Linked DNA regions of Homo sapiens. The protein of the gene in region 2 purifies or fractionates together with the protein of the main gene of each other region. This does not show direct contact. Each region holds a gene or a part of one and is shown on either strand. Other genes may lie near its edges.

Region 1 (7,027 bases), on a different chromosome or scaffold from region 2:
GGCCAGATCTAAGGAGCTACAATGGCTTCATGCCAAAGCTAGACAGCAGGATCAACTTGGGAATGGAGGCAACTTGAGTCAATGAAAAAGACAGTTTAGAAGCATGTCACTGCCAGGTTTCCCTCCAGACTGTTTTGAGACAGGTCTCTGTCATACAGGCTGGAGTGCAGTGGTGCAACCTCGGCTCACTGCAAGCTCCACCTCCCAGGTTCAAGCAATCCTCCTGCCTCAGCCTGCAAGTAGCTGGGATTACAGGCATATGCCACCACGCCCAGCTAATTTTTGTATTTTTAGTAGAGACAGGGTTTTGCCATGTTGGTCAGGCTGGTCTCAAACTCCTGGCTTCAAGTGAATCACCCATTTCGGCCTCCCAGAGTGCTGGGATTACAGGTGTGAGCCACTGTGCCAAGCCAGCCCCTCCAGACTCTTGAGACTAGTGTTATTTGCTCAGATGTTGCCAGTGAAAGTGTGAGCTACATCCACTGGATAAAGCAGCTACTTCATCCCTTGACTCAGCCACAGCAGATTATGAAATACTGCTTTAAGATATGGAGTAGAAATTCTTGAGTCAAGATGAAAATCCTGGATAGGGTTTTTACAAGCAGTGAAGCATAAATTACAATGAAGTTACATTGAGAAGCCACCTGTTAAAGTGGCTTCCTTTTTTAAAATTTGGAACTTGGGGCAATCTTCCCAAGCAGGGTTTACTGCACGAGGAACTTAAGCCACAGTCCCAGTTATACAGTGGATCATTGGCAAAGCTGGGAATAGGACCCAGGACGTCTGCTTCCAATATGCTACTTTTTTTTTTTTTTTGAGACGTCTTGCCCTGTTGCCCAGGCTAGTATGCAGTGGCACAGTCACAGCTTCCTGCAGCCTTGACCTTCTGGCTCCAGCAATCCTCCCAGCTTAGCCTCCCAAGTAGGTGGGACTACAGATCCACACCGCCATGCCTGGAAATTTTTTGTTGTTGTTGGAGGGGTGGAGGTGGTAGAGATGAGTTCTCACTATGTTGTTCAGGCTGGTCTCGAACTCCTGGGCTCAAGCTATCCTGCCCCCTTGGCCTCCCAAAGTGCTGGCATACAGGCGTGAGCCACCATATCCAACATCTCACATGCTACTTTTTTTTTTTTTTTTTTTTTGAGACGGAGTCTCGCTCTGTCACCTAGGCTGGAGTGCAGTGGCACAATCTCGGCTCACTGCAACCTCTGCCTCCCTGGTTCAAGTGATTCTCCTGCCTCAGCCTCCTGAGTAGCTGGACTACAGGCACATGCCACCATGCCCAGCTAATTTTTTGTATTTTTAGTAGAGATGGGGTTTCACCGTGTTAGCCAGGATGGTCTCGATCTCCTGACCTCATGATCTGCCCGCCTCGGCCTCCCAAAGTGCTGGGATTACAGGTGTGAGCCACCGCACCTGGCCACATGCTACTTTTAATTACCAAACTCCGTTGCCTGCTATGATTAGTGTACTGTCTAGGAGATTCAATGTACAGAATCTTCTTTTCCCCGTTTGTCCTTTTTATAATGTCTTATGTGGTACCTAGCACTTGGTGGGTGCTCAACAAATGCTTACCGACCAGACAACGTACAAACCTCATTTTCTGACAGTTTTCATTCTTTTTTCCCCCAGATTCTGGCAGCCAGGAGGTGCTGTCTGAATTGAGAGTACTATCTCAGAAATTGAAGGAAAACCATCAGTCCAGGAAGCAAAAAGCAAGTTCAGAGGGGACTATTCCCCAGGTCCAGAGAGAGGAACCTGCCCCAGAAGAAGAGGAGCCCCTGTTGCTACAGAGACCAGAGAGAGTACAGACGCTGGAAGAGCTAGAAGAGCTGGGAAAAGAAGAATGTTTTCAAAATAAGGAGCTTCCCAGACCTGTGTTAGAAGGGCAGCAGTCAGAGAGGACCCCAAATAATCGCCCTGATGCCCCTAAGGAGAAGAAAAAGAAGGAGCAAATGATCGACCTACAGAACCTCCTAACCACACAATCTCCCTCCGTGAAGTCTTTGGCAGTTCCCACAATAGAGGAGCTGGTGAGCAGAGCCAGGGTGGTGGGCCATTGTTCAGAAAGTGTCGTTCTTGCGCAAGGAGTAATGAAGCTTTGTTTTGCTGGGGGCACATTTCAGTAGTTTAGAGGTCCAGAATAGTATAGGGCCAGGCTAGTCCCAGTGACGTTTTAATAGATGCAGATATATGGGTGCTGCCAAGACCCCTATTTCCGAAAGCCTGATCCACAAAAACTCCTCTGGGGTGACTCTAAAACTGCTCTCAGAGGTAAGAGGGAGTAACTCAGAGTTCTGACCAGATCCCAGGCAGGACAACTTGAAGGTGAGTCATTGAACTGTTGCGAAAGTTTTATTCAGTGGGATCTCAGATGGTCTAAGACTCCCCAGTTAATCTGAAACTTAAAGTGAAGCGTCCTGGCACCTGTCTTTTCAGGGATATAAGCTGGAGGAAGCCTACAGTCTGGCCACTTAGAGCTCCTGCTGCTAACACGGGCCATTCCTTCCTCCACCCTGCAGCTTCCTTACTGAAAAGTTTAAAATTGTGTCATATGATAATGAGCTAGGGATATTTACCCTAGAGGGAAGAAAATTTGAGCATGATTGGCTGTGCACTGGTTTGTATCGCAAGACCATCATTGTTCAGCACTTCCCCCTAGGGGGCGCTAAAATGTCACGACCCGAAATTCAAGCGTTCTCGCCATGAACCACAGCTCATAAGCCAAGCTGTAGCTCTCGCTTGTTTCTTCCCAGGAAGATGAAGAGGAGAGAAACCATAGGCAGATGATAAAGGAAGCTTTTGCTGGGGATGATGTCATCAGAGATTTCTTGAAAGAGAAGAGGGAAGCTGTGGAGGCGAGTAAGCCAAAGGACGTGGACCTGACACTACCTGGCTGGGGCGAGTGGGGTGGTGTGGGCCTAAAGCCCAGTGCCAAGAAAAGACGCCGGTAAGAATGCCGAAGAAAGTCTGTCAAAAGGGCACCGGGTTCTCCCCTCGCCCTTCGGTGTCCTCCCTACCCTTTTGACTAAGTCCTTAATGCTCCTAGTCAGATGTCCTGTTGTTTTGCTTTCCAGGTTTCTCATTAAAGCCCCTGAGGGTCCTCCAAGAAAAGATAAGAATTTGCCAAATGTGATTATCAATGAGAAGCGCAACATCCACGCAGCTGCTCATCAGGTGAGAGCTTAGAGAGCTCTTTAGCTGCCTGCTTGTTACTGCCTGGCTCTCTTGCTTGAGAGGAGTATTCTAGTGATCTGTAGTCAAGAGAGACGTGTGATCTTGACCGCAGAATCAAATCTGTTGTTTTCACTGAATGGCTGTTAGATTTATCATTTCAGATAGACTACGCTGTTTTAATTACTGGCCAGGAAAAAAGTTTAGAGTCAAGGTAATGCTCAAACAGAGGCTATAAGGTTTAAGCTGTAGCTTAAGAAAAATGAAGACAAACCGGTACTTGTTCAGGAGAATGAGAAGATTGTAAGTTGTGTCACATGATAATGAGCTAGGGATGTTTACAAGAGAAGAAAATTTGAGCGTGATTACGGTGTTCAAGTATATCGAAGGTTATTGTATGAAGTCACATAAAGTAGAAGTTAGAGGACATACAGAATTCAAGGCTGCTCTGGGAGTATGAGAATGTGTAAAGGGGACTCAAGAACGAGATTGGACTAGATGACCTTTATGTTCCCTTCAATTCTGAGATCTGTCCCCAGCCAGTATATTGAAATGAGTTACATTTTTCCCTCGGAAGGAATAAAGAATTAATGGCTACAGAACAGAGGTAAGAAGATACACATTTCAATAACATTCTTTTTGATCTTATTTTGTGAACCAATCACTGCAGAAACTGAATCATAACTACTGCAGTCCCAATTAAACCTATATAACTAGAAAATAGGCAGTTACACGATAAGGGAAGGGGGGAAAGGGTGCTTCAGTGGGCCAGGATTCCAGGTGATGGGTAGAGTATGGAGCTCAATAAAGACCACCCTTCCCTTCCAGGGGTCTGTTTGTTTTTTTAATACAGTCATGGCAAACTGACAAATAGTTTTCTAGGAATCTCCCCTGATTTTCATCTTTTTAATAAGTTACTGCAGGTTCCAACATGCAGTAGAATAAAGTGCTTCAAGGTGCCTAGGGGGGACTTCTGAGACTGAATACTTTGTCCAGGTGTTCTCTTTTTCTGTTGCCCTGGTTGACAAGCACAGATGTAGCCGTCAACCCAAATAAGACATTCCCTTAACTTAAAGAGAATCTGTTTCCTTTGCTACTACCAGGACCACCTGATAGTACTTAGCTTCTCTTGAGTATTCCACTGAATGTTTCCAGAGACTACTGATTTTTGTTTGTTTGTTTTGTTTTCAGATGGAGTCTCACTCTGTCACCCAGGCTGGAATGCAGTGGCACGATCCCAGCTCACTGCAACCTCCACCTCCCAAGTTCAAGCTATTCTCGTGTCTCAGCCTCCTGAGTAGCTGGGATTACAGGCATGCGCCACCACACCCAGCTTATTTTTGTATTATTAGCAGAGACAGGGTTTCACCATGTTGGCCAGGCTGGTCTTGAACTCCTGACCTCAAGTGATCTGCCTGCCTCGGTCTCCCAAAGTGCTGGGATTACAGGTGTGAGCCACCGTACCCTGCCAAAGACTACTGATTTTTACATCCCCATTTTCTGCTTACGTGTTTTCCTCCTTTGGCCACTGGGGAAGTGTTGAAAGATTATTTAATGTCTGAAGGTAGCAATGTGGTGGAGGAGTACCAGGCAAGGAAACAGGAGCTTTGGGTTCTGTTCTCCAATGCTGCTCCTCATTTACTTAGGTCCATCACTTCCCCCCTCTAAGCCAAATCTTCAGGCCAAGGGAGATGACCATTGTCAATATCTAGGGCCTTCCAGCTCTACATTCTGTGGTGCCAAAAGAAGATGAAGCTAAGTGGGCCGGGCATGGTGGTTCACACCTGTAATCCCAGCACTTTGGGAGGCCAAGGCGGGTGGATCACAAGGTCAGGAGATCGAGACCATCCTAACACAGTGAAACCCCATCTCTACTAAAAAAAAAAATACAAAAAAAAATTAGCCAGGCATGGTGGCAGGCCCCTGTAGTCCCAGCTACTAGGGAGGCTGAGGCAGGAGAATGGTGTGAACCTGGGAGGCGGAGCTTGCAGTGAGCCGAGATCACGCCACTGCACTCCAGCCTGGGAGACAGAGCGAGACTCCATCTCAAAAAAAAAAAAAAAAAAAAAAAAAAGATGAAACTAAGTGTAACGGCCTGGTAGAGTTCAGGATTCGGGTTCCTTAAAACATCAATCCTGGCCAGGCGCGGTGGCTCACGCCTGTAATCCCAGCACTTTGGGAGGCTGAGGCGGGTGGATCACGAGGTCAGGAGATCAAGACATCCTGGCTAACACGGTGAAACCCCGTCTCTACTAAAAATACAAAAAATTAGCCGGGCGTGGTGGTGGGCACCTGTAGTCCCAGCTACTCGGGAGGCTGAGGCAGGAGAATGGCGTGAACCCAGGAGGCAGAGCTTGCAGTGAGCGGAGATCGTGCCACTGCACTCCAGCCTGGGCGACAGAGCGAGACTCCGTCTCAAAAAACAAAAAAAAAATATCAATCCTAAGAGAGGGAAGGAGGAGACTGAAAGCATAAAGAGGGTAGAAAAGTCATAAAATCCACAGGGATACACAATGGTCTGGATTCTTGCAGTCACAGTGTTACATAGGAAAGCTCACTCTGGGACAACAGCCCTGGAGCTCCTGTAGCTAGATAGGGACAGTGTCACTTGTAATCCCAGCTACTTGGTAGGCAGAGGTTGCAGTGAGCAGAGATCACCCCACTGCACTCCAGCCTGGGCCACAGAGTGAGACTCTGTCTCAAAAAAAAGAAAAACAAAGATGGGCAGTGTCAGGGTGGTTTTTCAGACCCTGAATTGTTGAATAGATGGGGGATCCAGAGCCAACTCAGGCCCCCCTACTCCCAAATGTCATCAAACAGATTGAATTCCTAAGGGCAGATGGGAGCAATGGGACGCCTTGACCTCTCAGTCTCTTCACTTGCAGTCATCATGTGGAACCGTGGCCTGTACCAAAACAGTACCTGATGAAAGCTGCCATTACAGTATACAACTGCACCCCAGGCCTGCCTCATACCAAATCATTCTCCTTCCTTTCCAGGTACGAGTGCTTCCATATCCATTTACCCACCATTGGCAATTTGAAAGGACCATCCAGACCCCCATAGGATCCACATGGAACACCCAGAGGGCTTTCCAAAAGCTGACTACTCCCAAGGTCGTCACCAAGCCAGGCCATATCATTAACCCCATAAAAGCAGAAGACGTGGGCTACCGGTCTTCCTCAAGGTCGGACCTGTCTGTCATACAGAGGAATCCAAAACGAATCACCACACGTCACAAAAAACAGCTGAAGAAATGCTCTGTAGATTGAGTTGCTGGAGGAGTGACAGCCAGGAGCCCTGACTTCACTTCCTTTGGTCCAGTTTTACTCTGATACAGGGTGGATTCCAAAACTGGCTCAGTACATTGCATGTAGTTAAGCCACATTTTAAAAATAAAGGCATTTTTTAATCTATTTACCTGGAGTATATGTTGCATTGTCCCCCAGTGGGATCATTTCGTTCAAGTCAGACACCTTTGGACTCTACAGCATTGCATTTCTCGAGTTGCACTTGTCAGGGCCACCTCCTTTTCTTACCAAGGATTATGTAGTTGGTCCTAAATCGAAATGGAGAAAGTTAACTGTAGTCTGTAACCTTAAATATATCACATCAGATATGATCCACCATTAATAACTGCCAACTTGAAGAGACAGGGTTAATAATGATAAAATATTGTATATTTTAACCTCTGAACCTAGAAAGAGGATGTACAAACTGCAATTGGATTCTGCCCTAGACTGATCCTAAGACCAGGACGGTGCCGAAGCTGGGTTCTGTCCCCACAAGTCTAGCCACAGCCATTTTTTTCACATGTGTGAGCTTCCCAGCTTGTACAGGCTGCTGTCTACAA
Region 2 (7,027 bases):
TCATATAATGACTTAATTTTTTTCTCCATCATATTAGACTCTATAGATGTGTCTTTCTTAGAACAATCCTGCACCCACATAAAAGCTGCATTTCCAATTTGAGATTGTCAAGAAAAGAATCACAAGATCTATAAATTTGGAGAGGAAACTTTATTTCTTAGAAAGGGTTGCAGTCTGCAGGGTGGCCATTCTGACAGGCTGGAAAGTATAGCCTTCAGCAGAGACCAAAAGCAGGCACTCTGAAGGAGGAAAGGATGAGACAGGAATTTATGCTGAATGCGTTGGCCAAGTATACTTATTTAACAGGTTATAGGAGGAGCTCTGAATATAAGAGGGGTCCTAATGCTTGTATACCGAGTAAATGTACAACCCCTGGTCGCTTTGGGGTGGAGACTTAACATTTAAAATACCTGACAATTAGATCCTGTATGTTACAAGATGAAATAGGGACAGGGACATGACAACTGAATGCACTGCCTCTGGAAGCTGGTAGTACCAGTCCATGGTCAGTGATCTCTTATCAGGAGATGTTACTGGGATCAGTCTCTTGTCCAATCAAAGCTGTAGTTACTGTTTGTGGAACAGAGTGTGGGAAGAGGGAAGCTGGGGTCAATCTGTATCTAGCTGTTGGTGAGCTGTAATTGTTTTAATATTGTTTATCACAAGGCCAGTGCTTGTTAAGCTGCTAGAGAAAAAAAAATATCCTGTGGCAATTAGAATGTCATTTACTCTTTAAGTGTAGGGTGTATGACTTAACCCTTGCCCAGGTGGTCTTAGGTCTTGTTTACAATTTGATATCTTATTGCCACAGTCTGTTCTGTCTTGCCTGGGCGCCTAGGGGCTTTATTTTTATTTTATAAGATAAAGGGGTATTTGGCAAAACTGCAGGTGTATTCATATCTGCTGTTATAGCTGCAGTGACAGCTTCATGAATTTCCTTTTCTTTTTTTTACAATGGTCCTATGGTATAGTCATTTATCTTGAAGTGGTGGGCAACTGCAACTGCAGGCCTCAGTCAACAGTACCTATCAAGCAATTCAGCTTTTTTCTTTTTTTTTTTTTTTTTTTTTTTTTGAGATGGAGTCTCCCTCTATCGCCAAGGCTGAAGTGCAGTGGTGCAATCTCGGCTCACTGCAACCTCCACCTCCCGGGTTCAATGGATTCTCCTGCCTCAGCCTCCTGAGTAGCTGCAACTATAGGCATTTGCCACCATGCCCAGCTAATTTTTTTGTATTTTTAGTAGAGATGGGGTTTCACCGTGTTAGGCAGGATGGTCTCAATCTCGTGACCTCGCAGTCCACCCGCCTCGGGCTCCCAAAGTGCTGGGATTACAGGTGTGAGCCACTGCGCCTGGCCAGTTCAGCTTTTTCTTGTACTGTCATGACTTTTCTGTGCTGCTTTGGAGCACTCCCAACATCACTAGTGGCACTTTATGTGGGACCCACGTTGGGTGGGTCCTATGGTCCCAAAGCTTACAATATTGCACTAAGATTAAAAATAGGCAAGAACTGCGAGAAATCACTTTCTACTGTGATAGACAGTTTATTGGAGAGTCAAAACTGCTTATGGGAGATAATCAGCATCACATGTGATCAGCATCACATGGCATTCTAAGTGGATACTTGCAACACCTGAGCTCACCACAAGAGCAATAGGTGGTGGCTGTGAAGTTGTCGTACAGTATGCACTACAGTTAATTTTATGGAGTTATGATTTAATACTGCATCTTTGCATTTGTTTCCATTTCTCTTGACTACAAATGGCATCATATATGGCTTGTGTTTGTGTGCGTAAGTTTTAATTTTAACTTTTTATAATAGATTTGTGTATATTTTACGGTAGTAAATAAGATAGACTAGTACCTACATACAGTTTATGCATTCATGACGTAGCTTTTTCTTAATTTTTTTGACATTTCTACGATACTTAGCTCCTCTCTGGGTTTTTTCACATCTCCAAAATATCTTCCAGTATATGTGTTGAAAAAAATTTGTGTGTAACTGGACCTGTGCAGTTCAAACCTATTATTCAAAAGTCAGCTGTATTACATCTTGTTTATCCAGTCACAGTAGATGGACTTTTGGGTTGTTTTCAGTTTGTGGCTATGAGAATAATGTTGCTACTGAATTACTTATATCTTTTGTGTTTTCTTACAAACTGAATTACAGACTACTTGAAATTAAGAGATGTACTATCTCTTGCTTTTGCTGTAGACAGGCTAGTTGGAAATCCACGTTTAACAGTTTATATTAATTATAATAAAGCTGTTAGATGGGCTGTTGTGTACCTATAAAAGTTATTTTTGATGAGTTGCCAATAACCTGGCAAAATACAGTAAGTATAATGTGAGCCAGATAGAAAACTAAAAACAATTGGTTCCAGGTATGTTTAATACAGCAGATGGGAAATGATGTTGCCTCTGTGTCTTGAAGCCTCCATTCCTTTCCAACTATTGCCCCATTACTTTGGTTCTTTGTGCAGCAAAACTACTCCCATCTGTTCTTGTTGTCTTTATTTCCTCATCTGTCATGCTCTGTTTTAAATAATTTTAATCAAAGTTAAACATACACATAGTTTTAAAAAGCCAAATATTGGCCGGGCGTGATGGCTCACACCTGTAATCCCAGCACTTTGGGAGGCCGAGGCGGGCGGATCACAATGTCAGGAGATCGAGACCATCCTGGCTAACACGGTGAAACCCCGTCTCTACTAAAAATACAAAAAAATTAGTCGGGCGTGGTGGTGGGCACCTGTAGTCCCAGTTACTTGGGAGGCTGAGGCAGGAGAATGGCGAGAATCCGAGAGGCGGAGCTTGCAGTGAGCCGAGATTGCGCCACTGCACTCCAGCCTGGGGGACAGAGCAAGACTCCGTCTCAAAAAAAAAAAAAAAAAAAAAAGCCAAAAATTTCTACTGCCTACCTCCATTTCACCCTTTTCAGGGGAACCAATTTCAACTCTTTTAGCTTATCTTAAAAAATTATTTGTCTCTGTATTTCCAGATATTTTGTTCATATACAGCCTCTTATTTTTCAGATTCACTATTGACTTTCTACCATCAAAGATGAAGATTTAGCTGTCTTTCACCCCCTTACTTCCACTGCACACACTCAGCCTTTCTGTCACTCCGATTTATTCTTCTCTGTCCTCCTGATGGTCCCCTTGTGGTTTTTGTTAGATTCGTGTTCAGTATTACCTGAAAACAGAAATCAGTGCTCAGTGTACTTATAGCTGAGCCAGGTGAAATACTGTGACTGCCTTATCTTTCTTTTGCAGCATTGTTTTCACTTGAGGAAGTAACTCTTATGTGTCTATGTCCTTTCTTCATTTTCGTCGTACTAATTCAGTAAGAAGCTATACGTTGTCTGTATCTCCTCTTGATGTATTCGAATGCATCTAATATTTGAGAAATCTCTCCTGGAGATGTTCTGTTCCAAAAACGCCCCCATGCTTTCTGCGTGCATTCTGGCTGCACAGCCATCATCCTGGGTTCCCTGTCCCCTGCCTCTTGGAGTCTCTTTCCCAGAGTTCTGCTTCTTGATATTCCTGCTGCTGATTTAGGCATCAGTTGACTTCGGTCTGCACAGTCAGTTCCATCTCCTCCATCTGCTTTCCACCTTTTTGGACTTTGCTACTGTTATTACTCTCTTCTTCCTTTTGGGCTTACATCTTTCCTGTCATTTTAGTGGAGTTTGAGGAAGGAGCATTTGTAAATGTTTGTTTTGTTCATCTGCAGGTGTCTGGAGGAAGAGCATTACAGAGGAAGGGGAAAGCACAAAGATCTTGAGTTGAGGGCACATCTGGCAGTGAGCGAGGAGGCTTGACCAAGGATGAAAGGGAGAGAGCGGAGAGTGACAGATGAGTCAAAAATAATAGGGCCTCACTGAGGTCATCATAAGGACTTTGGCTTTTACTCGGAGTGAATAGGAAGTCATTGGATGATTGTGAGCAGAGGAAGGGAGGTGGGATGTGAGGGGGCGAAGGGCAGTGAAGGTGAGTAGGATCCATAGATGGGAGGTCCTGGGGTAGGGGTGAAGGATTATTTGTGTTGATATGAGTGGAATGACAGAAAGTGGTGAAGGGAGAGTTGGATGTTTGAAATCGAAATTATGGGGGGGTTGCAGTTTTTGGTAATGACCAAGTCCAGGGTGTGACCATGGATGGAAGAGGCTGGAGTAGGGTGGAAAACAAGACCCCATGTTGGCATAAAGGATATCAAGGACCTGAGAGGCTGGCATGTTGGGATTATCATCTTCATGGGTATTGACATGATCGAGCATGGTGATGGGGAATAGCAAGAGAAAGCAAGCCAAGAGCTAACATCTTCACAGGTGATCTGTAGGGGCAGCTGAGGACCGCAGCCAGGCAGGGTGGTGGGTGATGTGGCCTCAGAGCAGATCCAAAGCCAAAGGGTTTTTAGGGAGGCAAGAGGGAGAGCATGTGGTCTGGATGTGGCATGAAGACACCTGCTCCTCCCCCAGGCCCAGAGGTACCTGGTTTGTGGAGGAAGAACTGGCCACCATTTGAGATCTGGCCTTAGTTGAAGCCAGAAGGTGAAGGGAATATTAACAGGGGTTGAAGATATAGAAGCTTTAGCTGATTTGTACAGGGCACAGTGAAAACAGTTTGGAAGATGGACTCAAAAAGGCAAAATTGTATCTTGTCAGTTTTGTCATTCAGTAAAGAATGCCCATTAAAAGGGTCTAAATGATCCTCAGAGCCCTGAAGAAATTTAGATAATCTTTAGGAAACTTTGCAGTTGAAAACCAATTATGTTGAAATTGAGTACAGTATTGCATTTATGGGTATTCAGTAACCAGCTCTGCCAGTGTGTCGTCTTGGGCAGGCTTTTTGATTTCTTATAAACTTCTCTCCTCATCCGTAAAACAGGAAGGTCATGTGAGGATTAATGAGGGCATGCATAGAAAGCCCTGGCACATAAAGCACTCATAGGATGGGAGCCATCATTAACCAAGAATCTTCACAAATTTTTCTTTTTCAAACAATTCTTTGTCTTTTCTAATAATTTTTTATTGGGATACAATTCATATACCATAAAATTCACCCTTTTAAAAAGTGGTTTTTAGTATATTCATGGAGTTGTGCAGCCATAACCACTGCCCTCATTAAAGAATCTGACTCAAATATCATGATTTTCCAGCATTTTTGGAGTACAGGACTTAGGTAAGGAAATGCTTTTTTGTCTACAATGTCTTTTTTTTTTTTTTTTTTTTTTTTAAGAGAGAGGGTTTTGGTCTGTCACTCAGGTTGGCATGTTGCACTCTACAGGCACGTGCTACTACACCCAGCTAACTGTTGAATTTTTTTGTAGAGATGGCGTCTCATTATGCTGTCCAGGCTTGTCTCAGACTCCTGGCCACAAATGATCTACCTGCCTTGGCCTTCCAAAGTGCTGGGATTACAGGTGTGAGTCATTGCATCCCAGCCACTAATTTGTCTCATTTTATTTCTTTCAGGAAAGTTCACATCCTTGGCTCCTTCCAAAATATCAAGATGGCAAGAACTGCCATTTGCAACCTAATCTTGGGTAATAGCAGTTTCTTTCTTTGGTGTTTTCTCTGGGAGGGATAGGAAGTTAATTGAGGAAGTCAAAACCACATTTGCAAAGCAATTTAGGGTAATATTAAAGATCGCAAGTAGAAACCCTTGGGAGTTGGCAAAGGTGGGCCTAGAGAAGGAAGTAGAATTTTTTTTTTTTTTTTTTTTTTCTGAGCCAGAGTCTCGCTGTGTCGCCTAGGTTGGAGTGCAGTGGTGCGATCTCGGCTCACTGCAACCTCTGCCTCCCAAGTTCAAGCGATTCTCCTGCCTCAGACTCATGAGTAGCTGAGACTAAAGACGCCTGCCACCTTGCCTGGCTAATTTTTGCATTTTTAGTAGAGACGGGGTTTCACCATATCGGCCAGGCTGGTCTCGAACTCCTGACCTTGTGATCCGTCCACCTCAGCCTCCCAAAGTGCTGGGATTACAGGCGTGAGCCACCACGCCCAGCCAGAAGTAGAAATACTTTTGCTTAGATTCCATTTGTCTGCAAGAGAAGAGAAGGTGTTTATTGGGTAATATTGCTTAAATCTTTGCTGCCTTCTTGATAAGGTGCAGAGAAAAACCATTCCAGAATAGCAGGGAACATCACATTTTAGGTTTAACAAAGGAAGAGCTGCTGAACAGCTTCAGGCAATTTAATTGATCCACTTAACCCATTTTCTTGATCCTGCAGCAAAGTCAGTACTTTCTGATAAGAGTTGCAGGATCTTAGCGGCTTGCTCAGAAAATTGGGATTTTCTGGTTCTCAGGCCTCAGTGATTGGCTTCTTTTTGAAATATTTTAACAACTCAGTGCCTTTCGCTCTTAGAAGTTTAAAATATTTTTTGGAGAATATTTGGGTATTATTTCTGTTAAGGTTTTTTTTTTTTTTTTTTTTTTGTAATTTCCAATTAAAATGTCTCTGTTCTTTTTAGGGTTCTAGACCCTTTTTCACGTACAGTCTGCCCTCTGTCTGCAAGGTCCACATCTGCGGATCGAACCAATGGCAGATCAAATACTCAGAAAAAAAATATATAAAAATAATGGCAAATTAAAAATAATACAAATTTTAAAACACAATACAGTACTATTTACATAGCATTTGCATTGTATTAGGTATTATAAGTAATCTAGAGATGATTTAAAGTATATGGGAGGATGTGGGTAGTTAATGTGCATATTTTTTATGTAAGAGACTTGAGCATCCAAGGATTGTGGTGTCTGTGGGAGTCCTGAAACCAGTCTTCCTTAGACACTGAGGGACAACTGTAGGCGCTATAAATGTGAGTTTATTTGTGTATATACTTTTTTTTCCCCTTTGCAGGAAATCCTCCTTCCAAGGTTTATGGCAATATTCGAGCTGTGGCTAGCAGATCAGCAGATCGATTCTGATTTCAAGTCAGAGACTTTTTATCTTGCCTTTGGACTCTGGTGAAAAATACTTTACAGTGGTCGGTCACAAGAAACCAGCTGAACAATTTCAGTCATT

Evidence for each region.
Region 1: the proteins of PNO1 (region 2) and UTP14A purify together in Homo sapiens (affinity purification with mass spectrometry; 3 studies listed by BioGRID and IntAct, with this or other methods). This does not show direct contact.

What each region holds. Positions count from the first base shown.
Region 1 is NC_000023.11:129,923,163-129,930,189, forward strand, and holds the end of UTP14A (U3 small nucleolar RNA-associated protein 14 homolog A), read left to right. Parts: intron 1-1,632; coding exon 1,633-2,033; intron 2,034-2,756; coding exon 2,757-2,950; intron 2,951-3,077; coding exon 3,078-3,177; intron 3,178-6,173; coding exon 6,174-6,446; 3' UTR 6,447-6,590; downstream 6,591-7,027. UniProt on the Homo sapiens protein: May be required for ribosome biogenesis.
Region 2 is NC_000002.12:68,167,873-68,174,899, forward strand, and holds part of PNO1 (RNA-binding protein PNO1), read left to right. Parts: intron 1-5,474; coding exon 5,475-5,545; intron 5,546-6,862; coding exon 6,863-6,930; 3' UTR 6,931-7,027. UniProt on the Homo sapiens protein: Part of the small subunit (SSU) processome, first precursor of the small eukaryotic ribosomal subunit.